7 separate regions of the Homo sapiens genome follow, and all the other regions are reported to be linked to region 1. Evidence: microRNA targets listed by miRTarBase, many of them from high-throughput screens and not tested one by one. Region 1 holds a microRNA gene; each other region holds the end of a gene's coding sequence.

The links. The annotated mature microRNA hsa-miR-6825-5p reads UGGGGAGGUGUGGAGUCAGCAU and lies in region 1 at 2,427-2,448, opposite strand. An mRNA with a match to its seed (bases 2 to 7 or 8) in the 3' UTR can be bound and repressed. Matches are read on the target gene's strand: a 7mer-m8 pairs with bases 2 to 8, a 7mer-A1 pairs with bases 2 to 7 and ends in A, and an 8mer does both.
Region 2: the mRNA of LBX1 is a reported target of hsa-miR-6825-5p. Seed matches in the 3' UTR shown: 7mer-m8 at 768-774.
Region 3: the mRNA of KBTBD3 is a reported target of hsa-miR-6825-5p. Seed matches in the 3' UTR shown: 7mer-m8 at 2,660-2,666.
Region 4: the mRNA of CST9 is a reported target of hsa-miR-6825-5p. Seed matches in the 3' UTR shown: 8mer at 507-514, 8mer at 1,073-1,080 and 7mer-m8 at 1,245-1,251.
Region 5: the mRNA of EVC is a reported target of hsa-miR-6825-5p. Seed matches in the 3' UTR shown: 7mer-A1 at 976-982, 8mer at 2,988-2,995, 8mer at 3,129-3,136 and 7mer-m8 at 3,377-3,383.
Region 6: the mRNA of SCAMP4 is a reported target of hsa-miR-6825-5p. Seed matches in the 3' UTR shown: 7mer-m8 at 3,405-3,411, 7mer-A1 at 3,235-3,241, 8mer at 2,859-2,866, 7mer-A1 at 2,709-2,715, 8mer at 2,098-2,105, 8mer at 2,039-2,046 and 1 more.
Region 7: the mRNA of KLF16 is a reported target of hsa-miR-6825-5p. Seed matches in the 3' UTR shown: 7mer-m8 at 904-910, 7mer-A1 at 1,080-1,086, 7mer-m8 at 1,664-1,670 and 7mer-m8 at 2,616-2,622.

Annotation. Positions count from the first base shown.
Region 1 is chr3:127,572,879-127,576,941 of GRCh38, forward strand. It overlaps MIR6825 (microRNA 6825), which reads right to left and starts at 2,453; the gene lies at 2,388-2,453. TPRA1 (transmembrane protein adipocyte associated 1) reads right to left here. Exons shown (of 11, transcript NM_001136053.4): 5 at 3,943-4,015; 6 at 3,739-3,818; 7 at 3,062-3,172; 8 at 2,871-2,931; 9 at 2,525-2,627; 10 at 2,307-2,387; 11 at 1-910. The coding sequence ends at 643. RefSeq lists enhancers at 1,999-2,578, 2,579-3,157 and a silencer at 2,432-2,611.
Region 2 is chr10:101,223,865-101,227,927 of GRCh38, reverse strand. It overlaps LBX1 (ladybird homeobox 1), which reads left to right. Exons shown (of 2, transcript NM_006562.5): 2 at 138-934. The coding sequence ends at 658. LOC124902491 (a long non-coding RNA gene) reads right to left here. Exons shown (of 2, transcript XR_007062267.1): 2 at 3,736-4,063. Among named protein-coding and RNA genes, the nearest start is that of LBX1, 3.6 kb to the left of the region's middle. RefSeq lists an enhancer at 1,313-1,814.
Region 3 is chr11:106,049,514-106,053,576 of GRCh38, forward strand. It overlaps KBTBD3 (kelch repeat and BTB domain containing 3), which reads right to left. Exons shown (of 4, transcript NM_198439.3): 4 at 1,585-4,063. The coding sequence ends at 3,337. Among named protein-coding and RNA genes, the nearest start is that of KBTBD3, 26 kb to the right of the region's middle.
Region 4 is chr20:23,599,770-23,603,832 of GRCh38, reverse strand. It overlaps CST9 (cystatin 9), which reads left to right. Exons shown (of 2, transcript NM_001008693.3): 2 at 99-1,423. The coding sequence ends at 323. Among named protein-coding and RNA genes, the nearest start is that of CST9, 4.1 kb to the left of the region's middle. RefSeq lists an enhancer at 966-1,467.
Region 5 is chr4:5,810,334-5,814,396 of GRCh38, forward strand. EVC (EvC ciliary complex subunit 1) reads left to right here. Exons shown (of 21, transcript NM_153717.3): 20 at 6-117; 21 at 620-3,972. The coding sequence ends at 704. Among named protein-coding and RNA genes, the nearest start is that of CRMP1, 81 kb to the right of the region's middle. RefSeq lists an enhancer at 2,649-2,698.
Region 6 is chr19:1,923,667-1,927,729 of GRCh38, reverse strand. It overlaps SCAMP4 (secretory carrier membrane protein 4), which reads right to left. Exons shown (of 7, transcript NM_079834.4): 7 at 1,717-3,622. The coding sequence ends at 3,446. Among named protein-coding and RNA genes, the nearest start is that of CSNK1G2, 15 kb to the left of the region's middle.
Region 7 is chr19:1,851,018-1,855,080 of GRCh38, reverse strand. KLF16 (KLF transcription factor 16) reads left to right here. Exons shown (of 2, transcript NM_031918.4): 2 at 321-2,682. The coding sequence ends at 622. Among named protein-coding and RNA genes, the nearest start is that of REXO1, 4.6 kb to the right of the region's middle. RefSeq lists enhancers at 1-25, 26-583, 584-1,140.

The sequences.
Region 1 (4,063 bases):
AGGGGCAGGGGCAGCGGCAGCTGGGATCCTGTTTCTCTTCACCTCCCCAGCAGCCAGCCCAGGGCTTGGGCACTGGGGACTGCTCCTTGGTTGAGCAGAGGCCCCCTGAGCCTCCCAGCCCCTCACCCAGCCCTCAGGCTCCTGAAAGGAACCAGCCCCAGTATTCCTGCAAAACCTCCACATTAGCACCTTCTGCTCCTTTTCCTTTTTATTAAAAAATAGATCAAGAAAATATACACACTTCAGTCCATCCACCATGGTGGATGCTTTGAGGAGGCCAAAGCACCATGGGGATGGGATGGAGGCATTGGGAGAGCCAGCCCTGCCCTCGTGCCAAGGGTGCAGAGAAGGAGGGTGCCCTCAGCCAACCTTGCCAAGCATGGCCCTGGAAGGAAAGCCTGGGCCATGTCACTGAGCAGTATGAGAGCAGGTGGGAAGGGGAGGAGGGTCCCCAGTGAGAGCAGAGATGGCAAAGGGGATTGGGAGCCCCAGGGAGGTGGGGCCTCCAGACTCATGGTGGGAACAGGGCCACACAGGGCTACTGCCCACAGAACGTCCCTTGACCTGGTCCTCCTCCCCTGGGGACTCTGGGCCTGCTGGCCTCCTCTCTGGCCTGTCCTCCACAGGCCCTGGCAGCTGCCCTCAGGCATTGATGGCCTTCCAGCGCTCGCTGTCTGTGCTGTTGATGCTGCCAGTGTGGCAGGGCATGGAAGCGATGTCATCCAGGTAGGCCACCCCGCCGGCAGAGTCGAACTGCGTGCTCGAGTAGCTGGCAGCTGAGGCCCCAGCAGCCCCTGCAGCCTCCAGGCCCTCCCGCCGGGCCACAGCGTAGGGCTGGGGTAGGTGTACATCTGGCTCCTCTGTCTCGTCCACTTGGCATTTGTAGGAGAAGAGGATCTTGGGCTCCGAGCTGATAAAAGGAAAAGAGGGGCATGGAAGCCTCACTGAGTGATTCAGGAAGAGCCTTCCTCTCCAGGCTGATGGGGCCACCAGATAAGGAAGGAATTGACCAACAGTCGCCTGACACCCACTCTGAGTGGGCCTGTGAGCTGGACCCCAGAGCCCATCTAGACTTGTTTTGGAACCCAGCCCTCCTCCCCCTGGCTGTGTGAGCTCAGGCGGGGGGCATCTGTGCCTGCTTCCTCATGGTGAAATGGGTGTGTGGACACCGTGTGGAGGAAGAATGGACATAAATCATGAGGCTTCAACAGTGCCTGCCCAAGCACTCAGGAGACATTGGCTGTGGCCTCCGCCCCCACTCCTGTGACCCCTGCTGCTCATGTTACCACCCACTCCACTCTGACCTCGTCCCTCGGCCCTCAGGGCAACTCTCCAAGGGGGACACACTACACCCAATTTACAAAAAGGAGCCTGAGGCTCAGGGGAGAAATTGTGTGCAAAGATCCAAGCTGGGGCCATGGACCAGTCTGGCCCTCTCCCAGCTTCACCCAGGTGGGAGGCTGATCCCCTCCCCACAAGACCTGGCAGGTGAGAAAGGGGGGACAAAACACCCACATTCCGACCACATTAAGGTCTGGAGTGGGACCCCCAATCCCATGTCTTCAGCATCCCATCTCACAGACGCTTCTGCAGATGCACATGTGCACAGCAGTGTACTCACCCCCAGAGAATCCAACTGACTTCCCACCCCAAACCTGCTCCCCACTTAAGTCTTCCCCCAACAGGGTACAAGCTTTGTGAGGACAGGATTTGCATCCGCTGTGGGCCTCGCATCTTCTGGCTCTAGCAGTGTCTGGCACACAGTAGGTGCTCAATGAATGCTTGCGAATGAATGAGTTAATATATTATTAAATAAAAACCAGCAATGTAGAACACCGTGCATAGTCACTCTCTCTCTCGTGGGGAGAGTATGTCTGTGTGTACTGTACATACAATGTGCATATATATGTATGTATATGTGGATATGTGCATATATCTACATGTATGTATATGTTGAGCACGTGTTCATGTGTGTATGCATGCATGTGGGTGTGCACGTGCATGTTTGTGTGCATATGCCCGTGTGTATCCGTATGTGCGTGTTTGTGTGTGCATGTGCATGTGTGCATGCTTGTGCATCCGTGTGTGCATGTGCACGTGTCCATGCACATGTGGGTGGGTGTGCGTATATCTGTGTGCATGTGCATGTGTATCTGTATGTGTGTGCCCAAGTGCATGTATGTATGTGCGTGCGCATGCGCACTGTATGCATACACAGCCTCTCAGCTTCAATCCTCACACCCATGCTGGAAGAAGGCGCAGTTCCGCCGGCAGCCACGCGGGGGCGCCGGCGGCCACAGACTCACCCGAAGAAGCCCCGGAGGAAAGCCACGTAGATGAGCGGAGCGAAGAAGCTGAAGTACAGGAAGGTTGTGGCATCTACACAGCTGCGGAGAAGGCGGGTCAGCGCGGGGCCTCCTAGCCCCATGCTGACTCCACACCTCCCCATGCCCCCAGCGGGTGGACACCCTGCCGCCCACTTCCCATGCCCCCACGAGGCAGACACCCTGCGGCCCCCACGCACCAGAGCCCCTCGATGATGTCGAAGCACAGCAGCACACTCCCCAGCCCCTGCAGTAGGTTGAGCAGTGCCAGGATGCCCGCATACACGTAGAAGCTCCTCCGAGCTGGGGGCCGGACAGGGTGGGTCGTGAGGTCCCACCCTGGACAGGCCAGGCTCTGCCTCCAGCACCTACTACCCTCAAGCCTGGTGTGTCCCCCGGGGCCCCTCTAGGCCTCCCTCTCACCCAGGGCTCTCCAGCTCCCAGCCTGGAACTCTACAGCTCCAGCTCCCAGCTACCAGCTCTACAGTGGCCCGGTAGACTCCCTCCCATCCCCGCCTGTCCCAGAGCCGCCGGCCAGCTGCTCACAAGGCAGGGAGATGCGCTCCTTCAGCGGGGTCTTGGGAAGGATGACCACCAGAGAGTAGACCTACAGAGACAGGCAGGGCTGAGAAGGTGCTGGGGGCGCCAGCCCAGACCCACAGCCAGAAACCCAGGAATCCAATCCCTACCTGGCCCTAAGGCCCCAGCCACCCCAGCTGCCCCAGCCTGAACCTCACCAGGAAGAAGAAGCAGGAGCTGACCAGCCAGAACTGGCGGCCCCCATGGCCATAGATATTAAAGTCCTCAGCTGAGAGATGGGCATCAGGGTACAGGATCTCCAGGGTCCCCTGCAGGGGCAAGCAGGAAGGGAGGAAGGGAGAGGATCTCAAGGCTTCTCTCTCCCAGGGGCTTTCCCTGATGCAAAGCCCCCTAAGCTCTCCACCACACCAAGTTCAGCCTCTTGGCCTGACCCTCAACTCACCTGCCCCAGTCTGCTCCCTGGCCATGTCCTGCCCAACTGATTGCAGCATCCAGAGCCGGCCCAGTCTTGGGCTGAGTCACATGGGGAAGGGGGCAGAGATGGACAAGGTGCAGTCCCTGCCCCCAATCTAAGAAAGGGGCCTCTAGATGCATGCTTCTCAGGGGGGTCTGCGGACCTGCACCATCCCTACCTGAACTCCTTATTAAAACGGCAAGTCCTGAGCCTCCCATCCTGGCGCCCTGGCCCACTGGATCCAAATCTCCAGGGGACCCCAGAATGTGCCTCGGTAACAAGCACCCCATGTGATTTCTCAGGTGCAAAGTTTTGAGAACTCTGAAGGTGATAAAGACTGGAAACCTGACCCAGACCCAGAAGCAGTGGGTGCCTGGTGCCCTGACTCCTAGCGTCCCCTGCCCACACTCACCCTCTTACCTGGGTGACAGAGTAGGCCAGGGACAGCACTGTGGTGATGGCCAGCACCCGCTTGATGCTGGACTTACTCTCCAGGTGGCCTGGAAGAAACATGCTGGTCAGCAGGCAGGAGCCAGCCCAGGTGACCACTCCAGAGTCAGCCCACAGCCAGGGAGGGGCAGGGGAGAGCATCGCCAGGGCCCAAGAGCCCAGCGGTACACACACCAAAGGCCAGGCCCAGGATGATCACACTCAGCTCGATGGCCAGCAGGAAGAAGCGGGTGATCTCCCACAGGATCTGCACGCAGAGTGGGCACAGCGTCAGCCTGGACCAGCATCCCCAGCC
Region 2 (4,063 bases), not on the chromosome of region 1:
GCTGAATTAAATCTGAGAAGGGAACATTGGTAGACTGCAGGCCGGACAGGCCTGGGTGGGTTACGGAGTTACGGGGGCGAGAGCCAGGGTGGGCTTCCTCTCTCCCAACGCGAGCCTACACTGTCCTTTCCTCCCAGGCCGCGACGGTATGACCATCTTTGGGCAGCGGCAGACCCCTAAGAAGCGGCGAAAGTCGCGCACGGCCTTCACCAACCACCAGATCTATGAATTGGAAAAGCGCTTTCTATACCAGAAGTACCTGTCCCCCGCCGATCGCGACCAAATCGCGCAGCAGCTGGGCCTCACCAACGCGCAAGTCATCACCTGGTTCCAGAATCGGCGCGCTAAGCTCAAGCGGGACCTGGAGGAGATGAAGGCCGACGTAGAGTCCGCCAAGAAACTGGGCCCCAGCGGGCAGATGGACATCGTGGCGCTGGCCGAACTCGAGCAGAACTCGGAGGCCACAGCCGGCGGTGGCGGCGGCTGCGGCAGGGCCAAGTCGAGGCCCGGCTCTCCGGTCCTCCCCCCAGGCGCCCCGAAGGCCCCGGGCGCTGGCGCCCTGCAGCTCTCGCCTGCCTCTCCGCTCACGGACCAGCCGGCCAGCAGCCAGGACTGCTCGGAGGACGAGGAAGACGAAGAGATCGACGTGGACGATTGAGCGGCGCCCCGGGTCTTCCGCCGCCCTGGGCTCCTAGCGCTCGAAAGCCCAACGCCTCCCGGACCGGACCGCCGAGGGGAGCTGGGACCTCCTCTGCCAACTCCCGCCTCCTCCCCTGTCCCCGGCCCCGGACTCGGCTCCTGGCAGCCGCCTCTTCCCTCTCGAAGCAATAAACCCAGGCTGGCCGGCCGGGCCGGCCGCCACCAGCGGCCTCCGCCGCCCCGGAAGCCCTCGCCGTGCAATTCTGTATGGCTTCTATATAAATATTTAAACCTATATAGCGGGTTCTTCCCACCGCAGCCTGATTTTTCCTTTCTTTTATTATTATTTTTTAAATCTCGGAGATTTCGATGTTTTCAAAGCTCTCGGGCTGCCGGGTTTGCTGAGGGCGAGACAGAAACCAGGGCGGGGAACACTAACCCTGCGGTCTAGGGGAGTGGCAGCTCCGGCTGTTTTGATTTTTCTCTGCATGTGGCGAATGCACCGGCCCGCTCCTTCCTCGCCTCCCTCGGCCTTATTGCAGTTGACTTCTATTTCCTCGGGCCTTTTTTCCTCATGTGGGAGGGGAAGAGGTGGGCAGTCAGGTCCTGACTTGCAAGTTTCAAAATCGATCTTTCCTCCCCACCCTCTGAGAGAAAAGTCTGTTTTCGATGCCATTTCTGCCTCCTAATGCCCACTAATGCTGTTTTTAAGATTCCTCCCTCCCTCCCGCATTTCCTCGGACTGACTGTTGGAGTCCGGCTCTTAGGGACAATGCAGGGGGAAATCCAACCAACCAACTATCGAAAACAGAACCCAAAGCCCTATAATTATTTTGTACTCTTTTTAGAATTTTTTTGCATGTGACAGAGACAGAGAGGAGGCCGACCCAAGCCCTCACCTCACCTCCTCCACAGCTCTGGGTCTCTCTTGCCACTTCGAACACCCCACTCCTACCCGACTTGGCCAGAGGAGGGTGGCTGGATGTGAGTGGGCTGCGAGTGCCCCTTCCCTGCTCCTCCCTTCCCCTCTCCTCCCTAGACTGTACCCAAGGCCTCTTTCTCCAATAAATAAAGTCTTTGCCATTTTACTAGAACCGGCGGCGACCGTGTCTGAGTGGTGGGCCCGTTTCCGAGAAGCAGCGGCAGGCTGGGCTTCTTGCCGCTCTTCGTGCCGGTCGCCCTAGCCTTGGAGATTTGGGGGGGATTTTCAGGACAGGCTTAAGAGTGAAGGGCGAGGGGGAAGCAGCAGGAGGAGGCGCCTCTTGCCCATAAACCTGAGGCAGCTGCTAAATCGGGAGAGAAGCGGGCTTCGCCAGGTCGGGGTAAAAAACGAGCCGTGAAATGCTGGGAGAAAATGCCTGTGTATGTGGGGGCACACCACAGTACAACATTAATTTGTGTTGAACAAAGGGTGGGAGGGGGTCTTGCCCTGCATTTCCTGCATCCCACCCCAGACCCAAGGGCATTCTCCCTGCACTCCCCGAAAACAGGGCTGAGCCCCGGGAGCGCTGCAGGTATCACTCAGTCAGACGCGGGGTGGAGCCTTGGGTTCCCAAGTTTCGATTCTAGCCCCGAGGGCCTCATCCTTGGGGAGTCGGGGGCCAAAGGCTAAAGGCATCAAGGCCAGGCTGAATTTCAATGTGGGCACCTGGAACTGTAAGCCCAAGCGTCTGGGAGCTGGTGTGAATTTCTGGCAACATTAACCAATTCTGCCTCCACACCCCGGCACACCGCTGGGGGCAGAGGTATGGATCTTGCAAGGACTCTCTCGGGTCTGCGGCGCCCCAAGGCCGGCTGGGGCGGGGGCTGAGGCCGCTTTCACTTTCCTGGACAGAGCGGGTTTCTCTCCGGGCTTTTGTTGTCGCTGGGCTGGCGAGTAGCCGCTGTCACCGGAGTGGGGTCCCGCCTCCGGGCCGCTGGGCTCTCTTTCTCCGCAAAATTGATGTGAGAAATGCGCATCTGGTCTCGGGCGGCGATGGGGCCCCCGGGCCCGAGCCAGGAACGTGCGTGTCCAGGAGGAAACGAAGAGACAGAGAGAAACAGGAAAAAAAAATAGGAGCACAGAAAGACACTCCAAAAGCAGAGAGAGAAAGCGGAGAGCCACAGAGACAGGACGGAGAAAAAGAGGAAAAAGAGAGAGAAACAGAGAAACGGAGAAAGGGAGACAGAGACAGAGGGAGAAAAAAAGAATGGGAAGAGAGGAGAAGAGAGAGAAGGAGCAGAGAAGGAAGGAGACGGCAGGGCAGCGGGGCAGGCGTGCGGCTGGTTCCTCCCGGGCGACAAAAATTGCCCTCTCTTAGGATGGATGGGTCTGTAATTCGGAGCGCGGACCATGAAGGCCGGGACGAATGGGCCTGGGCGGCCGCTGACAGGCGACAATAGCCGGGCCCAGCCCCCCGCGGCTCCCGGTGCGGGCACGGCCGCGGCCCTCCGCAGCCCAGAGCGCGCCGGCGCTGGCGACCATATGGTTTTTGAATTTTCTTCACAATTTGTAGACAATTTGATGGATTAGGTCCCCGCGCGCGCCTCCTCGGCACAAAGGCGGCGCAGGGACCACGGCGGGTCGGTCACCCGGGCATCTGCGCCCGCCGTGCGCACCCCCCCACTCGGCCCCCGCCCCGCGCCCGAAGCCCCAGGCCGCCCGCCCAACACGCTCATGAATCCCAATGAAGCGGCCCTGGCACCTCCGGCCGCTCTCTGCTTCGCGGCCCTGGGCCTGGCCCCGCTGGGTCCCTTTGGGCTGGGGGCGGCGGCCCCAGGGCTGAGCCCACCCGAGCTGCGGCGCCCGCGGGGCGCGCAGCTAAGCAGGCGCGTCGGGGCTGAGGAGAAACGGGGCCATTTATCCGCCCGTCTAGTTAAAGCGGGTTATTTGTTTGCTTCTCCGGCCTGCCCCCTCCCCTCCCTTCCCCCTCTCTCCTCCCCCGCCCTTCCCCTTCTGCCTTTTATTCTTTTGTCTCTAAATGGATTTAATGAGCCTGAAAAACATGACAATTGAATATAACCAAGAAATAAAAAATAACGAGGGAGGAAGGAAGGAGGAAAAGAAAGAATGAAAGAAGGAAGGGGAAGGATTAATAAAATAAGGAGAAAACGCAATTCAATTCAGCAAATGTTTATTGCGCGTCTTTTCTGCGCCAGGCCGCGCAGGGGGGCTGGGAAAATGGAAACGAATCAGATTCGGTTCCTGCCCTCAAGGAGCTCCTAGTCTAGTGGGCAAGACTCGCAGCACCCCCAGCGCTAGTAGAAGCGGACCGAGGGACAGGGCCGTGCCAGTTGCAAAACACTGAGAGGCAGCTACCAGGGTGTTGGCGGCTTCACAGAGGAGGTGGCTTGGGACCCGGGCCTTGAAAGGCGAAAAGTAGTTCGTTGTTTCCATAGGCCAGAGAAGAGAGCCAGTGGAAGGAAGGACCAGAGCTGCGGCGGG
Region 3 (4,063 bases), not on the chromosome of region 1:
CCCTATAATTTTCAGCCTTTGTGTTTAGGTTGCCATTCAGAGCTGCCCCCTCAGAGAACATTTTTGAGATTTATACTTTCAATTCTAAATAAGAATTTCCACAACACTAGATCCAATTAAACTGAGCATGATGATCTTAAAGTAACATTATATATTCAACTACTTAATCATTACATTATAATATTTATTGCATTCAAATCTCAAAATGTAAACAGATATATCCCTCTGTGCTTAATTCTGATTTTCAAATGGTATACCTTGAGCTAATAAGCACATTGAACATATATTCAATTGCTCTTCTTGGTATCTGAGAAATACAGAATCATATTGCAGCATGTGGTCGCTCTTGAATATTAATCTAGCTTTCAAGGGTAGCACGTAATGAATATTGCTGTGATAATGACCTCCTCCACTCCCCAGACCAGAGCTGATTATGGGAAAGTAGTTAGCTTTGATTATGCAAATATTCCTCATACTACTTAGTTTCAAAGGGTGTAGATGAACAAAAGTTGCTCCACATTTTAGGAATGTCCATTAACTTTGAATTGATCTCATGTTTTAAACATACTCTTTTTTGTATTTAATAATGCTGTATACCTACTTTAAATTTTAGAAGACATTACAATATTAAAATATTTTTGGCATGCATAATGCAAATGTAGTGGAGCATGACAAAGATAATGGATTTAGAAACGTTAAATAGAATTTTTCCACAGGAATGATAGCAATCTGAATAATAAGCGTAATTATTTTGTCTCTTGCACTGTAGCATTGGCTGACGGATATAATGAAAGGAAAACAGACTTTTAAAAACACTAAGGGAAGAGCCCATAAAAGGATGTTATTTTCTCTTACCTAACCTCACAGACAGAAAAAACAGCTCCTTCTGGAGGTACTGAGAATAGACTTGAGGGATCACTGAGATTTGCAGGTCAGAAATCCAGAAAGGAGGGTGAGGCCAGAATAATATATATGGTTCTTAGACAGTGAAGCCACAGTCATTAACAAGACCAGAGGATATAACCAGACTTTAGTCATTGCTCCTGTGTGGTTGAGTTCCTTGAGGGCTTTGAAGACACAAAACCATTTTCCCATAAGGCAGATGGATCAAATGAAAGTGCTATCTTTATAAGGAGAGGCCAAATATGAAAGGAGAGGAGTTAGCGGAGCAGAGTCTAGCATAGATTGCTATGGTGATCAGGAAAAAAAAAACAGTAAATAAAGAGTAGGAGGTTTTTGATTAGACAGAGTATTTTCCTTGCAGTGATAATTGGTGGAGAGAACAAAGGTACAGAAGTAAAGGGATGGCAATCACTGAAAATGATTAAAAAGTAACCCACGGTAATTATTTAAAAAGAAAAAACTAGGGCAGAAAACCTTCTGCATTAGAAAATGTATTAAATCAAATGCAGAGGAAGCCACCTAGGCTTTGATAACAAGAATGTTTCTGGAAACATTAGCATAAAGCAAAGGCCAATCAGAACAGTAGTGGAAATCAAGAAGATGATACAACAATGAAGTAATATCAAAAAGGGATTTGATTTTGGGTTTCTCCTTTCTGAAATAGATGAACAATTCCTAAAGTCAGTGATGAAAACAATATTTATTTTAAACATACTCTATTAATATATATCCTTAAATTAACAATTCAGTAAATGCACATATAGGCTACTCACTGTGTTATGGTCTTTCTCAAATAATTTGTTTTCAAAGCCACACACACACAAACAAAAGCCTCCACTGAATTTTCCTTTTTCAAATACACAAAGTTCAGAGCCAACTACTCATGTGCTTAGATAAGAAGGCCACCAATAAATACGTCATCTAATCAGGAACAGTCCTTGATTTTTAAACTTCATGAAAATGTACTCTGATATTCCATTCTGTTTTGAAAAATACATTTGGAACTTATCGTTGCATAAATTTATATGATAAAATAAGAGAATCTTCATTTAGGTGTATTTCTACTTAGGAACACACTTTTAAAGAATGTGCACATTTGAGAAAGATTAACATTTACAACTGAGTGTAGAAAACTACATTTGGTTCCAGAGAAGTACAATCTACACATTACCTGAGATGTAAAGCAGGGGTCTTAAAACCCAAAATGCCTTTATCTTTTAAACTGATTAAAGAAACATATACTCTTGGAAGGCAGAATCACCTACCTGAGAACAATGACAACAGTACCCTTACATTGTGTGGGTTAAAGATCAAACATCTTAACAGATGCAGGTTGTGAATACTATTATCAATACCAAAAGCCAAGTCATTTTTTTTAATTTAGAAAATAATTCACTAAGAATAATTTACTGAAGTAGTAAACCAACATAGTGCTTTATAGTTGGTATACATCATCACAGAAAATTGATATGGTACTAATTTAAATCCTGAAATGTTTTATGTAGCTGAAATTTGGATAAAGCTTAAGAAATGCCATAATAATGATCCACTTAATTAGAGGTCAATTTTCTATGTCCTTAATTAGGCTGGAACCTAGCAATGATACATAAAAAGTATTTTAGTACTGCCATCCCAGAATCCAAAAATTTCCAATTGAGGGTTACATGTTAACATAAACTCAGGCCAGGTGTAACTTAGAACTACTAATTAAATCCAGAATGTTAATTTACTAAGATTGAACCAGAAAATGAGAGGGGGGGAGGAGAGAGAGAGAGAGAGCTAGAAATTGAAACCAACTGACATTGAAAACTAATCAGCAATTTTTAAAGCATTTAAGTAACTGCTAATGGCATTATAACATGGTACATTATGCTTTTAATGAAAAAATGAGTCATTAAAAAAAGTTAAACTATGTTTAGTGTACTATTTATAAAGCTGGGAGAATTATTTCTGAACTAAAAAAGGGTAAAAAGGGTACCTAAAAGAAGTTAACCAATCATCACAAATGATAGGAATTCAACAACTCATACCCGCAGTAACAATATTCTCACCTCTGATTTATTTTTTACTTCATATAAGATACAGTGTAATTCATTTTTACTCTCTCTAGAGGTTTCTCCCATCTAAACAGTACAAATCTTTTATGGACAGAGTACTTTAAAAATCAAAGTGTCAGAGTCTATGATTTGTAGTTTCATGTGAAAATACTAAGTATTCTGGATTCCCCAAGGTTAAATTATATTCAGTATAATTTTTGGTAAAATATATTTTGTATTTTAAGTTTTTGGAAACTGTTTATTCATATATGGTGTACATACATAATAACTAAAAGCAGGAATGTTTTATTTCATTAAGATGTATAGATCTTTTTACCTATCATTTTGGTTAACAAATTTACTTTAGGTTACTAGAACTGGACTCGTTTTAGAATGTTCAAGCACATAGATTAGAAAACCATGGGTCTCTGTATTTATTAAACTGAATCACCTGGCAGTAAAATTCTGTTAAGGCTCTAGGCATTGGTGAAACTTCTTCCCATTCAGACCTGTTGCTGTGGTAGACCTGCACTTCATCTGTGATTTCATCTGGTGCATAATCACCACCTAATATATAAATTTTATCTTCAATTCCAATTGCACCTGCATTAAAGCCTGCACACTCAAAAGATCCTTCGCCTTTCCAAACACAAGTGTCTGGACAAAAACTATAAACCTTATAGGTGGAAAGGTCACATATATACAGTGTACAGTTTACTGGTACAGCTTTAATTAATGTTGCATGAAAAAATTGCCCAAACTCTGCTACTAGTTCAGACCACTGATCAGTTGTAGCATTGTATTTAAAAAAGCAATCAAGTGATGGGTTAAAAGCATCTGTAATCTCTACCTCTGATCCAAGAACATAAATTACATTTTGGCATGTGCTTGCTTCTGGATAGTATATGCCTCTGGGTAATGGGCTAACAGATATCCATTCTTTGGAAAGAGGATTGTAAGATTCAACATCTAAGAGACTTTTAATGTCCCGGGATCCTCTAGTTTTTCCACCTATGACAAATAATCTATCGAGAGCCATAACTGATGTATGCATGGTTCTTGGTGTTTTCATAGTTGATACCAAGAAGAAATCATTTTTCACTGGACAGTAGCACCAGGTTTGA
Region 4 (4,063 bases), not on the chromosome of region 1:
AAGTGTTGGGGCCTCTCCTACTCAAATGGCATCTTCACTAGTAGCTACTTAGGGGCAGGAAGACGGTGCATCCACTTTAATCTTCTTTTGTCCAACAGTGGCGAGGTAAGATGGTGTTCTCCATGAATCTGCAACTGCGCCAAACCGTATGTAGGAAATTTGAAGATGACATTGACAACTGCCCTTTTCAAGAAAGCCTGGAGCTGAACAACGTAAGACAGGGCATCAGCTTTCCTCAGGTCCACAGCTGTGGATGCTGCATGGGGTGTGGTGTGGGCACAGGAGCAGCTGACAAAGCCATTCCGAGGGACAAAGGGAAGTGAGCCCACAGCAGGCTGTACCAGGCTGCCCTGCTTGTGCCTTAGTGGGAAGCCCAGTGAGGCATTAAGCCCAGGGGTTCACTTTCAGGCCCCTGGCCAATCTGAGTTTCCTGATTCTGCCCTCTGACACCATTGCAGCTGCCTGCACCTGGGCCACATGGCCTTCAGAACCTTCTCTCTGGTCTTCCTCCCCACTTCTTCCCTGCCTTCTAGAGAAAGAGCCTGGAGACAATGGTGACAATGTCTGTGGGTACTTTTCTCAGGGTTTCCCTACCCTGCCCTAGACCCAAAAGTGGTGGAGGCTGAGAAGAAGCCCCACTGCCCTCGCTCCTAGGCCCTGCTGAGCTGCAGCACCTGCTCTAGGGGACGAGCTCCAAGCAAAGCCTGGCTCTGGGAAAACTTCCCATTCTTAGTCAACCCCCTTATTGTAAGATTAACAAATAGGTAACTAATTGCCTAAGTCTGGGAACTGCTTCCACTGGGACAAAACATTCTCCTGCTGCTCTTGGATGCAGGGATCACACCAGGACAGCCTGGGGTTCCCCTGAGGGGCACGGGCTGGAGGAGGAGGCATGGCACAAGTGACCCTGGCTAAGGAGGGAGGGAGCCTCAAATCACGTTGTAGTTCAGGATTGGCCTCAGGCTCAGGCTAGACCTGAAGGCCAGAGCCACGTGGCACAATTGCTGGCCCCAGGAATGGGCAAGGTGGAGATGGAACCTGTGTTGAGGGCAGATGCCACAAGATTCCCGAACCTCCCCAAACCCCGCCCTACTGTCTCTTCCTGTTTGTTCCCTCGGACCTTCAGCTGCTTCTTCACTGTTGAAACCATGCCCTGGAAGACATATTTTGAACTCCTGAACAAGACCTGCTCAGAGGGGCTCTCCTGAGTGGAAGCCACTCACATGCCTGGCCACATGCTGCCCCCTCCCCCGTGGACACCAGCTGTTCCCAGGAGTTGACATATCAGTGGCTGAGCAGCTCCGTGCATATTTGTTCTCTTATTTTGCAAGTGTCTGAGGTTTTATGACTTGGCATTTTAGAAAATCCTCACTGTCCAGGTTCCTCAAGTAGAATAGGTCATTAAACATCAGCATTTGCAGAAGCTTCCTGTGCCATGTTCTGGAGGGAGGGGGCTGAGCAGTTGATGGAGTTCCTCTCAGAAGGGCAGCCTATTTGCATCTGTGTCAGTGGGGTCCTCCCTCCCTTAAGACCTCATAAGCCAGCTTCCAGGTGGCACAACCAAGATAAGTCTGAGCTGCTGTCTCCATGCTCGTGGCTGATGATGACCCATGTGGCCAGAGGTAAAATGTCTGTGATCTTGCAGGACACCCAATGTGCACAACTGAGCAAGACAGGGCCTCTGGGTCCCACTCAGCACATGTGGCCTCTGTTCTCAAGGGGTGGCTCACACACCTTTCCTGGTTCGTGGAAGGTTGGTGGGAAGAGGAAGGACTTCTAGCCTCACCCTTATAAAGCTGTCCTGGCATCTGGAGCAGCAGCATCTTCTGAAAGAATCTTAGAAATGTCCAACTTCAGGGCCTCTGACCTTTGGAAAATGCATCTGCGCTCTTACAAATCCCCAGGGATGCAGAAATCCCCTGAAAATGCAGGATTTGCAGGAATGCACACCCCCAGGGGATGCAGTGTGAGAGGCACGGGCAGACTAGATGCTACCAAGACATTGCCCAAATCACCTAAACCAGGGTTTGGCAAAAAAATTTTCTGAAGAAGCCAGAGAGTAACTATTCTGGCCTTTGTGGGCAGATGGTCTCTCTCAGCTACTCAGAATTGCTGTCGTATCTTGAAAGGAGCAATAGCCAATGTGCAAACATGTAAGAGTGGTTGTGTTCCAATAAGTGTTTATTTACACAAACAGGCAGTGAGCTGCTTGGGCCTCAGGCCATAGTTACCAGTCTCTGATGCTAAGAGCTCCTCTGGACCCTGGTGCCCCTGAGACACACCATGCTACCAGCTCCCACGCCAGGCACCTGTATCTCCCCCAGCTTCACTCAGGGGTTGATCTGTGCAAATGAGCTCCATCAGCAGAGCAGGTGCACCCTGCAGGTGTGGGAAAGGTCACATCTGAGAGTCACATTCTGTCACTGGAAGTGAGCAGGTATATGTCCCAGTCTCCCCAGCCTCAGGGCACCCAATTCAGGGTTGAATTTCTGCATTTGCCTCCCAGCAGGATATACCCCTATGGTCCACAGTCTGGCCTCGAGAAAGAAACCATCACATCCTCCAGCTAAAAATTAAATAAAGTACTCTTTCTGGACAAGACTTAAGTTTCTTCTCCATGAAGATGCCTTCAGCATTTATCTGTAGTTACTTGTGAACTTCAAAGGGACTAGAATACCCTGAAGGCAAGTTCTAAATACCCTAAACCTAAGTTCTTATTCTCCCTATCCCCCAGGAATCTGAACCACTAGGTCTGGGCAGGGCCAGGGAATTTGCATGTCTCACCACCTCTCCTGGGACGGACCTGCTCCTGGTACCCAGACCACACTTGGAATGGTGCAGGTTCAGAAGCCATCATTGCGGGGTGCATGCAGACCAAACCACAAGTGAGAAGTAACTCACCTCAAAGGGCATTGGGATGAGGCTGAGAATGGCTTCTTCATTGCACGCTGAATTGGGGAAGGGGTCAGAACACTATGCCTGATTGTAAAGAAAAAGGAGAGTTTCTAGACCCCAGGCAACAGGACGGTGCCTCTGGAGAAGAGAGAGGCTGCACTGGCCCTGACAGCCTGGCCCTCTGCACTGCAGCTCCTCAGAGCTGGAGCTTATATTTAGTCAGTTCCCATAATTAATTGTTTAAATTTTTCTACTTTTTTGTATTATGAAAAGTGGTATGATGAATGCTTCTTTTATATTTATCGCTGTGTATATATGGTTATTGCTTTCTTATAGGCAATGTGCTCAGAGATTAAACTATTGCCCAATATTTTCATTAAAATTTCTTAAGAATTTTTAATAAACATTATTACAATGTCCTCTATTAAAGCAAGTAATAGGTCATTATCATGAGGTTGCTTTTGTACCTGGAGCTCTTTCATAAGCAAACCAAAACTTAACTTGGAGGCATTTCTCATGGCTGACTTACAAATTAAAATCTAGCATCAATCAACCACAAACAGGCAGCCAGTTAGTTATATAACTAGGGACCTCTGATCACAAGATACCCAAATAAGGCAAACACCTAGGACCAGGAACATCACCATTCCCTGTGTGCTGGTTAGAAATGCAATTTTCCTGGCCCCACTCACACCTACTTGGTCAGTGTCTTGGGAAGTGGGGTGGCTAAAACTTGGGTTTTAACATCCGTTCAGGGGATTCTGGTCTCTCTGAAGTTTACAAGTGCCTGCAGATAAATATTGACATCATTACACCTATCATTACATCATGCCCAAATAAGGTAGACATCTAGCTAAGCCAATCAGGTAACTTCTTGACTTTGCTCCCTTGTTCAGCCTGGGAAACCTTGCTGTTTATGCTACTAGAGAAAAACTTTCTCAATCTTTTCCAGTTTTGAGTGTTGCCCAGTTCATGAATTCTTCTTTGCCCAAATAAACTCTATTGAATTCATTTTGTTTAAAGTTTTTCTTTAACAATTTAGTGTCAGATGTGGAATCCTAAGGCAAACTCCAGCTGCATCTAAGAAAACCTACTACCCAGCAAAGGCACCAACTGAGCCACGGTGCTCTCTTGCTGCAATTGGAAAGTGGGGGTGAGTTTCCTTTCA
Region 5 (4,063 bases), not on the chromosome of region 1:
TACAGAGAAGCCCCTAAGGACTAAAAGGAAGAAGCCCCTGCCCCAGGAAAGAGGGGACCTGGGGGTGCCCAACAATGAGGACCTTGCCTCCGGGGACCAGACCTCAGGCTCACTCAGGTATGACTGGGCCCCGGACCTGTTGCCTGTGGCTGGGTTTGGTAAATGCACTCAGCTGCTGTGTGCCAAAAGTCAGGGCAGGAAAATCATCAGTCCCCTCAGAGGCATTAAATGTGAAGGTTCAAGAAATGACAGATATGAACGTAATTTGTGGGCAGTAAGCCATGATGATACCAGGGGTGCCACATGGCTGTTACCCTTCCTGTTTGTGTCTCATTTGGCCAGATGAGCCTTGACCTACCTCCACACCCCATTGGCATCCAGCCTGAAGTGTTGGGCAGTCCCTTCTTTGACCAGGGATGGCTGTGGTCATGGCACTTGGATGACCTCCTACCCAAGGAGGGAAACGGGTTTTATTGGTTTCTTAACAACCCATGTCAAAGTAAAAATTGTTTTGATCACCTTTGGCTGCATTTTCATTTAATCCGATTGGGTAAGTTATGGCATCATGATGGGCATGGAGTCAGCGTTCTAACTGGCTGCCTTTCTTCTCTGTTTTAAGCAGCAAAAGGCTGAGTCAGCAAGAAAGTGAAGCTGGGGACAGTGGGAACTCAAAGAAGATGCTAAAGAGAAGAAGCAACTTGTAGTTTAAGACCAGTCGGTGGGACAAGACCTGAAGCCCTGGGTCTGGGTGTGAATTCCACCTTCCCTCCTGCAGTGCTGAGAGGCAGCGAGGACGGAGAGGACAGCGGCATCTCTAGGCTCTTCTGAGAGGGACAGAGAAAGAATAGAAATGTGCCCTAAAAGCATAAATGAGTATCACCTGAGAAAATTAGGCATTCCCGTCTTGGAAACACGTCTCTGTGAGTTTGCATTTCATTTGGCTTGGAGCCCTGGCTCGATGCCTCATGGATCTTTCTCCCCAAGGAGGGACGTCTTGAGGGGTCCGAGCCTCAGGCCAAGGACCCCTGATGCAGACTCTGGAATCCCTGGCCCAAAGGCCTGTCTGGGCCCATCTGGGGCTGAGGACACACAGATACATAATGACACCTGCAGAAATGTATTCTCTGAGGACACTTAGAATATGAGGAAGAGGGTGTGGCCCAACCCTCACTTCACCTGGGGAGGGGCTTCTTCCGGACAGTAGACACCCTGCCCGTGCAGAGAGATGTCATGGGGGCACCTGCTCTCCCTGATAGATGCTGAGAGCATCCAGAAACTTCCAGACCAGCCCTCTCACCACACCCAGAAGAGGCCTTTCCCATCTGGAGAGAAGCTTCCAGACCAGCCCTTCACACACCACAGCCAGGAGGGGCCTTTCCCACCTGGAGAGAAACTTCCAGACCAGCCCCTCATACCACAGCCAAGAGGGGCCTTTCTCACCTGGAGAGAAATTTCCAGACCATCCCCTCTCACCACAGCCAGGAGAGGCCTTTCCCACCGGTAGAGAAACTTCCAGACCAGCCCCTCACACCACAGCCAAGAGAAGCCTTTCCAGCCTGGAGAGAAACTTCCAGACCAGCCCTCTCACTACAGCCAGGAGAGGCCTTTCCCGCCTGGAAACTTCCGGACAAGCCTCTCACACACCACAGCCAGGAGAGGCCTTTCCCACCTGGACAGAAACTTCCAGACCAGCCCCTCTCACCACAGCCAGGAGAGGCCTTTACCACCTGGAGAGAAGCTTCCAGACCAGCCCCTCACACCACAGCCAGGAGAGGCCTTTCCCACCTGGAGAGAAACTTCCAGACCAGCCCCTCATACCACAGCCAAGAGGGGCCTTTCTCACCTGGAGAGAAACTTCCAGACCAGCCCCTCACACCACCGCCAGGAGAGGCCTTTCCCACCGGGAGAGAAACTTCCAGACCAGCCCCTCACACCACAGCCAGGAGAGGCCTTTCCCACCGGGAGAGAAACTTCCAGACCAGCCCTCTCACTACAGCCAGAAGAGGCCTTTCCCACCGGGAGAGGAACTTCCAGACCAGCCCCTCACACCACAGCCAGGAGAGGCCTTTCCCGCCTGGAGAGAAGCTTCAGGCCAGCTCCTCACACCACAGCCAGGAGAGACCTTTTCTGCCTGGAGAGAAACTTTCAGACCAGCCCCACACACCACAGCCAGGAGAGGCCGTTCCTGCCTGGAGAGAAGCTTCCAGACCAGCCCTTCACACCACAGCCAGGAGAGGCCTTTCCCACCTGGAGAGAAACTTCCAGACCAGCCCCTCTCACCACAGCCAGGAGAGGCCGTTCCCACCTGGAGGGAAAATTGCTCCTTTGATGGAGGTTAGGGACTGTCACCCTCAGCACTGTGAACATACCGGGCGAGATCATTCTTCAGGGGAAGGAGCTGCCCAGAGCATCACAGGATGTTCCAGTGTCCCTGGTCTCTGCCCACCAGATGCCAGCACTCCCACCATTCGTGGCAACCAAGGATGTCTCCAGACACTGCCCCGTGTCCATGGGGTTATCACCCACTGTGCTGAGTCAAAGGGTGCCTTGCCCTGGTCTAATCCAGGACATAGCCGTGGATACGTCCAAAAATCCCCAGAACCTAGTGAGCCCTCTGGCTCTGGGAGCCCCTATCTCAGGAATTTTCAGGGTCATTTGTGACTTTTCATTTCTTAAAACCTGAAATAGACTCTCTTAGAAACAAGTGACTCCTTCCCAGTGGCCAAAACTTAATCATCAGAGCGCTTCCTTCAGTTCCTCACCCATCAGCCAGTGGGCTCTCCAAAGTTAACCAACAGCTCCCTCTTGTGGTTCACTAAAAAACTTGGTTATTCCATGGAGTTGTGCAAAGCTATGGCTTCCTTGGTGCAATATTCTTAAAACCTGCTTTGCATAGAAATCACTTTTGCCCAGGCTGGAGTGCAGTGGCGTGATCTCGGCTCATGGCAATCTCCATCTCCCGGGTTCAAGCGATTTTCCTGCCTCAGCCTCCCCAGTAGCTGGGACTACAGACGTGTGCCACCACGCCTGGCTAAATCTTTTTTGTATTTTATTTTAGTAGAGACGGGGTTTCACCATACTGGCCAGGCTGCTCTCGAACTCCTGACCTCATCGTCCACCTGCCTCGGCCTCCCCAAAGTGCTGAGATTAGGCGTTAGCCACCGCGCCCGGCCAGAAATCACTTTTATATTGTCACATGGGCCCTCTGCACAGAGTCCGATGGCTCCTCCCGGGGAAGCCTGATTTTGTGACGTGTGTATAGTAAATGCAGGCCCTCTGGCAGCACCATAATTGGTCGGTTACCCTGAGCCCAGAGCTCTGAAAGCATCTGTGGAATGATCACGGGACCCTTCTCCTCTGAGAAGGCTCCCGGCTGCCTCCCCGCCACCGAGCTTGTAGCCTGAATGCCTGGCTGTCGCATGGAGCATTTTGCTTCTGGGGTGTCTTCCTTAGCCAAAGGGAACGTGTCATTTGCTCGACCCTGGCCCACCCTTGCCGCCCAGCTGTTGTGCTGGGCACAGTCTGGGGCACAGGCCTCCATGATGAAGACGCGTGGGCTGTCGGTGCTTTCATCCGTCACAAACTGGCACCTGTACCTGCCAGCAGGAGCATGATGGGGACTTCCATGCTGGAATTGCTCCCTGATTAAAATGAGATATGGCTATTTGGAAGACACTGCATTTTAGCCAGTGTACCTGGGCACAGACTCGGGGCTGCCCTGAAGCTGATGAAGGCTTGAAGGACGGAAGGGCTGAGCCACATGAAGGCAGCACTCAGGGCCAGGGGAGAGAGAAGAGGATCAGCAGTGCAGCCCCAGGATGCCTCGCAGGTACCCTGCCTCCATTTTGGTTACCATCCCCACTTATTATGGGCTGTGGGCTGTTATGGTGATGGATGGATGTGGATTTGGAAGGGGACCATGAGAGATGATGTATTATGATGAACTCATGATTTAATTCTTTGGTGAAAATAGCACCCTCTGACCTGTACTTGAGACCGCAGGATGAAGCCAGCACGGTTTTTTGTACTCCCCCAGGGTGAGTGCACTCTCCCAGGACCCTCC
Region 6 (4,063 bases), not on the chromosome of region 1:
GTTCAAGAGTTTTGCACACATTTAAAAAAGTATGCCACCCATCCTCCTGTTTAAAAAATGTATTTGAGGCCGGGCACCGTGGCTCACACCTGTAATCCCAGCACTTTGGGAGGCCGAGGCGGGTGGGTCACGAGGTCAGGAGATCGAGACCATCCTGGCTAACACAGTGAAACCCCGTCTCTATTAAAAATACAAAAAATTAGCCGGGCGTGGTGGCGGGCGCCTGTAGTCCCAGCTACTCGGGAGGCTGAGGCAGGGGAATGGCGTGAACCCGGGAGGCGGAGCTTGCAGTGAGCGGAGATCGCGCCATTGCACTCCAGTGTGGGCGACGGAGTGAGACTCGGTCTCAAAAAACAAAGTATTTGAAAAAAAATATTAACATGTAGTAAGTTTATTCTTTTGTTGTTTTTTGGTTTTTTTTTTTTTTTTTGAGACAGAGTCTCGCTCTGTCGCCCACACTGGAGTGCAATGGAGCGATCTCCGCTCACTGCAAGCTCCCCGCCCAGGTTGATGCCATTCTCCTGCCTCAGCCTCCCGAGTAGCTGGGAATACAGGCGCCCGCCAGCATGCCCGGAGAATTTTTTGTATTTTTAGTGGAGATGGGGTTTCACCGTGTTAGCCAGCATGGTCTCGATCTCCTGACCTCGTGATCCGCCCGCCTCGGCCTCCCAAAGTGCTGGGATTACAGGCGTGAGCCACCGCGCCCGGCTGGGTTTGTTTTTTGAGACAGAATCTTGCTCTGTCACCCAGGTGGCAGTGCAGTGGCGTTATCTTGGCTCACAGCAACCTCTGCCTCCCAGGTTCAACTGATTCTTCTGCCTCAGCCTCCCAAGTAGCTGGGATTACAGGCACCTGCCACCACACCTGGCTAATTTTTGTATTTCTAGTAGAGACAGGGTTTCACCATGTGGGCCAGGCTGGTTTTGAACTCCTGACCTTGGGTGATCTGCCTGCCTCGGCCTCCCAAAGTGCTGGTATTACAGGTGTGAGCCACCACACCCCACAACCCCCCTTTTTTTCTCTCCAGAGTCTCACTCTGTCACCCAGGCTGGAGTGCAATGGTGCAATCTTGGCTTAGTGCAACCTCTGCCTCCCAGGTTCAAGCGATTCTCCTGCCTCAGCCTCCCGAGTAGCTGGGATTACAGGCGTGTGCCACCACGCCCAGCTAATTTTTTGTGTTTTCAGTAGAGACAGAGTTTCACTATGTTGGCCAGACTGGTCTTGAACCCCTGACCTCAGATGATCCGCCCACCTCGGCCTCCCAACGTGCTGGGATTACAGGCGTGAGCCACTGCGTCTGGCCGATGTTTGCTTTTTACGTAGGGCCAGTGACACTGGCTTTCCATCTGTGCAAGTTTCCTTTTTTTTTGAGCCGGTGGGGAGTGCAGTGGCGCGATCTGGGTTCACGGCAACCTCCGCCTCCCGGGTTCAAGCAATTCTCCTGCCTCAGCCTCCTGAGTAGCTAGAACTACAGGCACCCGCCACCGCGCCCGGCTAATTTTTGTATTTTTAGTAGAGGCCGGGTTTCACCACGTTGGCCAGGATGGCAGGGTCAGCCCTGGGCACACCTGGCTACAGGGCACCCGGGGCCTGGGTGGGAGGAGGCGCTGCAGGGGGGCATCCTGCCAGAGGCCATATGCTGAGGGGTCTCCCAAGGGAGAAGACGGCCTGGGGGAACCACACATGCTCACAGCACAAACGCGGCAGGTCCCTGGCTCTAAGTGCAGAAACATGTATTTATTTCCAGGATATTTTCACATAACAAAACCCCAACGATGCGGCGAGGGGCCACACACGGCGGGGGAGGGGTGGGGGGGGGTTGGGCCTGCCAGGTGAGATTTTGTCTGCATCAGTGCAGGCGAGAGGCTGGGGAAGGGGGTGCCTCTTGGCAGACTGGCCGGGGGCAGGACCTGAAGACCCTGAAGCATGGCCGTGAGACCCATGGGTGCTCCATCCTGGCTGCCGTCCATCGAGACACCATGGCCGCCTCCGGGCACCCAGCGGCATTCCGTACCAGCGAGGGGACTGGCTCACATCCTGGGGAGGGCTCCAGGGCAGCAGGCGTCCTACAGCAACAGCATCCTGGGGGTGAACGGGTGGGGAGGGGTGGCAGCCTGGGGTGTCCAAAGTTGTGGTCAGCGAGTGCAGGAAATGATGAAGGAAAAGTTTCTTTTTGGCCCAACCGTTGTGAATGGTGCTGTGAAAATGTCTTGCCTGGGAGAGGTGTTCCAGGGGGAGTTGGGGGGTGAGGGGACAAGACAATTGTGGCCGCTGCCGGACCCCTCCATAAGGCACAGATTTGACGGGTCCCCTCTCATAAAAGGCCACTCCAGGCTGGGCGCGGTGGCTGACACCTATTATCCCAGCACTTTGGGAGGCCAAGGCGGGTGGATCACTTGAGGTCAGGAGTTCGAGACCAGCCTGGCCAACATGGTGAAACCCCATCTGTACTAAAAATATAAAAATTAGCTGGGCGTGGTGGCAGGCAACTGTAATCCCAGCTATTTGGGAGGCTGAGGCAGGAGAACTGCTTGAACACGGGAGGCAGAGGTTGCAGTGAGCCGAGATCACACCACTGCACTCCAGCCTGGGCGACAGAGTGAAACTCTTGTCTCAAAAGAGAAAAAACAAAACAAAACAAAACACAAAGGCCTCTCCTGCAGGGCTCCGGCTGCTGGGAAACCGGCTCTCTGCCGGTTTGCTGGGTTTGGGGAGCGGCTGTGCTCCCGACCTGGCCTGGGTCCCCGACTCTGAACTCAGGGGCGTGGAAAGACAGCCTGCCAGGGATCCCTGTTTTGGAGGCAGGGAGGGTGGCCCCAGGATACCCTGGACCAGGAACTCCCCAGGTATGGTGCACGTGGGGAGGGGGCGAGGCTGGAGCCGCACAGATCAGGGGATGGCGGGGACAGCGAGGACTCAGCTAGGCACCAAGCCCTCTATCACTGCAGGGGACCGGAAGCTGGCCCCGACGCCTCTTATTAGTTCCGGCCAAGGGCATCTGCCATGGTGACGGCGGGTGGCCGGTGAGACGGAGCTCCCCATCAGACCCGCTCTGACCTCAGCGCCAGCAGCTCTGGGAGGACGGGAGGGCGGCCGACCTGCTGCCACCTGTCCCCCGGAGTCAGGCCTCGAGACCTGAAGACAAGGCCGTACCAGCCGTGCAGTGGACGGCGGGTGACCACACGTTTCCGGGAGCAAGAGGGCGTCCTGTGGACGGCAGAGGCCAAGGGCTGCTGGGGAGTGCTTGTGAGGAACTCCGCTCTCGGATGAGATGAACACGGGTTCTGTGGCCCTGGCAGGAGGGGGGCGGTCCGTGGCCACCACCGGCTTCCACCATCCCAGCTGGGGGGATGGGGCCCCAGGTACTCCCAGCCCTCGGGACCAGGGGTAGCAGCAGGAATGAAGGGGAGGAGGTGGTGGGCGGTGGGGGCAGGGCAGGCTCCCTCTAAGGCCACTGGCCACTGCCCGGGTAGCTGGGCACAGTGGGGTACTCGGGCAGGCTGTTGCCTGAGAAGTTGTTGTACTGGGCCTCCCTCGACGGTGGGTTCCGCCAAGTGCCCGTGTTCCACTCCGTCTGTGCCTTCTGGAAGCTTCCGCCAGCCCCTCGGTAGATCCTGTGCACCTGCAAGGACAGAGGACAGGGAGGCAGAAGACAGAAAATGAGCATGGCGGCCGGGCACGGGGACTCACGCCTGTCATCCCAGCACTTCGGGAGGCCGAGGCAGACAGACTGTCTGAGCTCTGGAGTTCGAGACCAGTCCAAACAACATGGTGAAACCCTGTCTCTACTACAATATAAAAAATAGGCCGGGCACGGTGGCTCACGCCTGTCATCCCAGCACTTCGGGAGGCCGAGGCGGGAGGATCACGAGGTCAGGAGATTGAGACCATCCTGGCTAACACGGTGAAAACCTGTCTCTACCAAAAATACAAAAACAAAATAATTAGCCAGGTGCGGTAGCGGGCGCCTGTAGTCCCAGCTACTCGGGAGGCTGAGGCAGGAGAATGGCATGAACCCCAGAGGCGGAGCTTGCAGTGAGCAGAGATCGCACCACTACACTCC
Region 7 (4,063 bases), not on the chromosome of region 1:
GCTGCGAGGGCCTGGGGAGCTTCAGCCTTGGGGGTCTGCGGCGGTTACTTACGGTTAACAGATTCTGGGCTCGCCGGAGAGTCCTTTCTAAGAGCTGGTAGGAAATAAGAGGATTATTTATTAGGGTCTCGTGTTGGGCCACCGGGGGGCGGGTAAGGGTTGTATTCTTTGTGCTTCTCCATGTTTTGAACTCACACCAGAGCTCAGCCTCTAAAACGGCACGGGACAAATGCCCGCCACCCTTTGGGATCTGCTGGAACGTGTCTGTCATCTCCCCCCGCCCCCGCTGACCCGCTGTCTGTCTCTGTCTCTCCGTCCAGGGGAACGCCCTTTTGCTTGTGACTGGCAGGGCTGCGACAAGAAGTTCGCCCGCTCCGACGAGCTGGCCCGCCACCACCGGACGCACACGGGCGAGAAGCGCTTCTCCTGCCCTCTGTGCTCCAAGCGCTTCACCCGCAGTGACCACCTGGCCAAGCACGCCCGCCGCCACCCCGGCTTCCACCCGGACCTGCTCCGGCGCCCTGGTGCCCGCAGTACCTCCCCCAGCGACTCGCTGCCCTGCAGCCTGGCCGGGAGCCCTGCGCCCAGCCCCGCGCCCAGCCCAGCCCCCGCAGGCCTGTAGGGCCCTCGTGCAGCCCACCCTGACCGCCAGGATGCTTCTGCCATCCAGGGGTGTAGTGAGGACCCACGGGGAGCCTGGGCCCCTTCCAGCCGTGGGCAAACCCTGAAGACACCCCTGCCCCCCTCCAGAGAGTGAGGAGGGGGCCTGAGACTGGACCTGGGTCTGCCTGACCTCAGAGGTGGCTCTCAGGATGGGTGACGGGGGCTTGTGTCTGTAAATAGCCATGATACTAACTTTCTTCCCATCTGTGCAACGGGGCCCCCCCAGGGCAGCTAGGAGGTCCTCCCCTCTCCTCTCCACCACCCCCTGCTGCCCCCCTCCCGGGGTGGGGTTTGGGGGGGTGGAGTGGACTTCTGGGAGCCGGCCCGGGGAAAGCACCCCCTGCCCCATCCCTGCAGATTGGGATGAAGTGTTCAGACAGCCATAGAGGAGTCGGGGGTTGACACGGCCCCTGCCTCTCCCCACCCCACCCCCACCCCACCGAAAGCCATGGGAGTAGTTCAGGGAAATGGGGGTGCAGCCCAGCCACCCCCCATTCGGGTACTCAATCTCAGGTGTCCACAAGTTCTGCCCACGGTAGGGGCTGCCTGGCCCCCCAGACCTCGGGGGTAGAGCCAGGAGTGGGGCAGCGTTAGGATGCCCGGAGGGGCTCCAGGTGTTGCTTCTGAGACCTGGGATGGGGAGGGAGGGGACCTCTGGGTTCTTCCAAAGAACATTTGACTCAGTGGGGTCGGGAGGGAATCCTGGCTTATTTATTTTCCTCTGTCCTCGGGTGTGGGGGCCCTAGCTCGCCCTCTCTGGGTGGGTGGGTGAGAGAGGCTGCAGGGGAGGCTGGCACCGGGCTTGGGCCTCCAGTCCCTGCCTTGCTGACTTTGGCCGTTGCGGTATCACGTGACAATCAACTCTCCCTTAACGACGACTGCGGCTGTTGGGCTGCGCTGCCCTCCCTGGCCTGCAGGTGGGGCCGTGGAGCCCATGCCCGCCGGGGTTGCAGGCTCTTCCGGGCCTGGGCTGCAGCCTGGCCCGGCCCTGCTTCCCTGGCCTCCCCTCCTTCTCCTGGGTGCTTGGAAGAGGTGGGTCCTGGCCCGTGGTTGAGGTCTTGCCTCGTGGACTGGAAGCAGAGGGCTGGCTGTGCAGCCTCCTGGGGTAGCTCGTTTTTTTTGCACCGGGTAGAATATTTTTTCAGGCACGGATTCCTTTTTTTCTGGGCCCCCATGGGTGGTCCGGCATCCTCAGGGGGTGTGAGTGTGTGTGGGGGGTCTCTGAGCTGAACTTGGGTGGGGTGGGGACTTGTTCCTCGGGGGCCACCTTTGTGTCCTTGTCAGCGGTCGTCCTGCTGTGGCCTGGGTTGCATTTCCTCTTGGGGGGGGTATTGAGGACCCCCAGCCTGGAATGAGAAGGGTCCCCGGTTCCATGTCAGACCCAGAAAGGTGGATCCCCCCACTGTTGGCTGCAGGAGGTTTTTGGTACCCCCTTTTGTTCCAGAACCGTCCTGCCTCTCGCTTGGGGACAGGGGGGCTTTGGATGGCACTGGTGTGCACCTGGACCCAGCCCCGGCCTGGCAGGATCCAGGGATGGGTGCCTGGGATCCTGGGGGGAGGGAGGCAGGGGACGCCCTTCTGGAGCTGGGCTCGGAGGGTCCTGCCCCATCCAGCCCTCGGCTCTCTGTGTTCTCTGTCCCTAGCCTCAAACCCTCTTCTGGCAGCGCTAGTGAGATGCCTTAGTCTGTGGGGGTGGGTGGGGGACTGGGGCCCCGTTTTCCTTTGTGAGTCTTGGTTGGCCCCAGCCCTGGCAGGGGCCTGTCTGGAGCAGGGGTAGGTAGGGCTGTGGGTTCCAGAACTCTATAACTGGGCCCCTCTCCAGTGTCCAGGGGCTTGGAGAGACCTGCGCCCACCCCTCCACTCTCCCAGGAGTCGCTGATCACTGGGACCTGGTTCCAGCCGTTTGCAGGGGAGGCGGCTCCGAGAGGCGTGTGCTTTCCGTGGGTGGCGCCCCTCCCCCGCCCTGCCTGGCCTCATCCTTGTATTTAATTAATTAAACAAGCCCCTTTTTAAACCCTACTCCAGCGTGTGTGTGGTCTCTCCCGTGGCAGTCCCCACCTGTGGGCACGCTCTGAATCCCTCTGTCCCACCCACCAGTGTGGTCCCAAGTTCATCCACCTCGTGGGGAAACCGAGGCAGCGGGCTAGTGAAGGGGGTCTTGGCCAGGCCCCTCTGGCTGAGACACAAAATGCCCTGCCCCTAGCCCTAAGCCCCGCGGAGGGGGCTGCCTGCAGCAGCGCGCGCTGCGCCCGCCGGGTGTCACCCACGCCTGGCGCAGCTGCGCCCCCCGCCCAGCTTCCCGCCCGCCCCGTTGCCTGGCAACCGAGGCACAGTGACAGGGCGCCCGGGGGCGTCCACCGCCCGCCCCTTCCGGTGCCGCAGGGGATGGGGGAGCCTGCGCCCCCGGGGCTGCTCGCCGGCGCGGGACAGGCTCCTCCACGGAGGGTCCCCCGGCCGCCTCCCAGGCTCCTGTGCTCCTGTATTGAGCGCCTACTGTATGCCAGCTCCCCTAGTGGGAATAGGGAAGAGGGGGCGGTGAGAGCTTTGAGGCCCTCCCCAGGAAAAAACCACTGTGGACTCCAGCGCTCCCCAGAGCCTGGAGGCCGGCGGGGCTGGGATGGGGCCGGGCAGGCCACTCCTACACACCTGCTGAGCCCTGGGGCTTCGCCTGCTGCCCGCCCGGGGAAGGGGGTGGTCGGCCTCTCGTATCGCGCGGCCGGCGCCGGCTCACGCCAGACCCCTCCCCAACCTGGGCGGCAAATTCCCGGCTTTACTCGAGGGCAGCCTCCCTCGTGCACCCCCAATCCTGCCCGACCCATCCTCCCATCCTACCGGACGCCCCACAAACATCACTCCCGGGACTCTCGCACCCCTCCAGCTCCTGCCTGGTTTTCTGCCCCTCTGGAGCAAAATGTCTAGAATATGGGGTCTACACTCGCAGCCTCACCCCTCTCTCTGACGGACACACTCGCATTAGGCTTTTAAATTACACGCCCCACCCCCAGCACACACACGTGCCCAGAAGCAGCACCATCCTTTTGGTGCCTTTGGGACCCCGACCCTCCCGGGCGTCCCTCCCACCCGCAGGCTGCTCTTGCCATGCCCCCTCCTCGGTCGAGGGCAGTTCCATCCTGCAAGGCCAAAATCCTTGGGGAGTCACCCTGGACCCCACTGTGTGTCTCACCACCCACATCTGGCCCATCTGAAACCTCCTTGGGCTCTACCTTCAAAATAGATCCAGGATCTGGCCGCCTTTCCCTGCTGTAAGGGCTTCCACCGCGACGGTCTAGCCTCCTCACGACTCACCTGAACCAGTGCAATCACCTTGGCCCTGGTCTCCTCACGGTTTGTCCTCCCCACGGCCACCAGAGGGTGTCCGTGAACACCTGGGGCAAGTCTG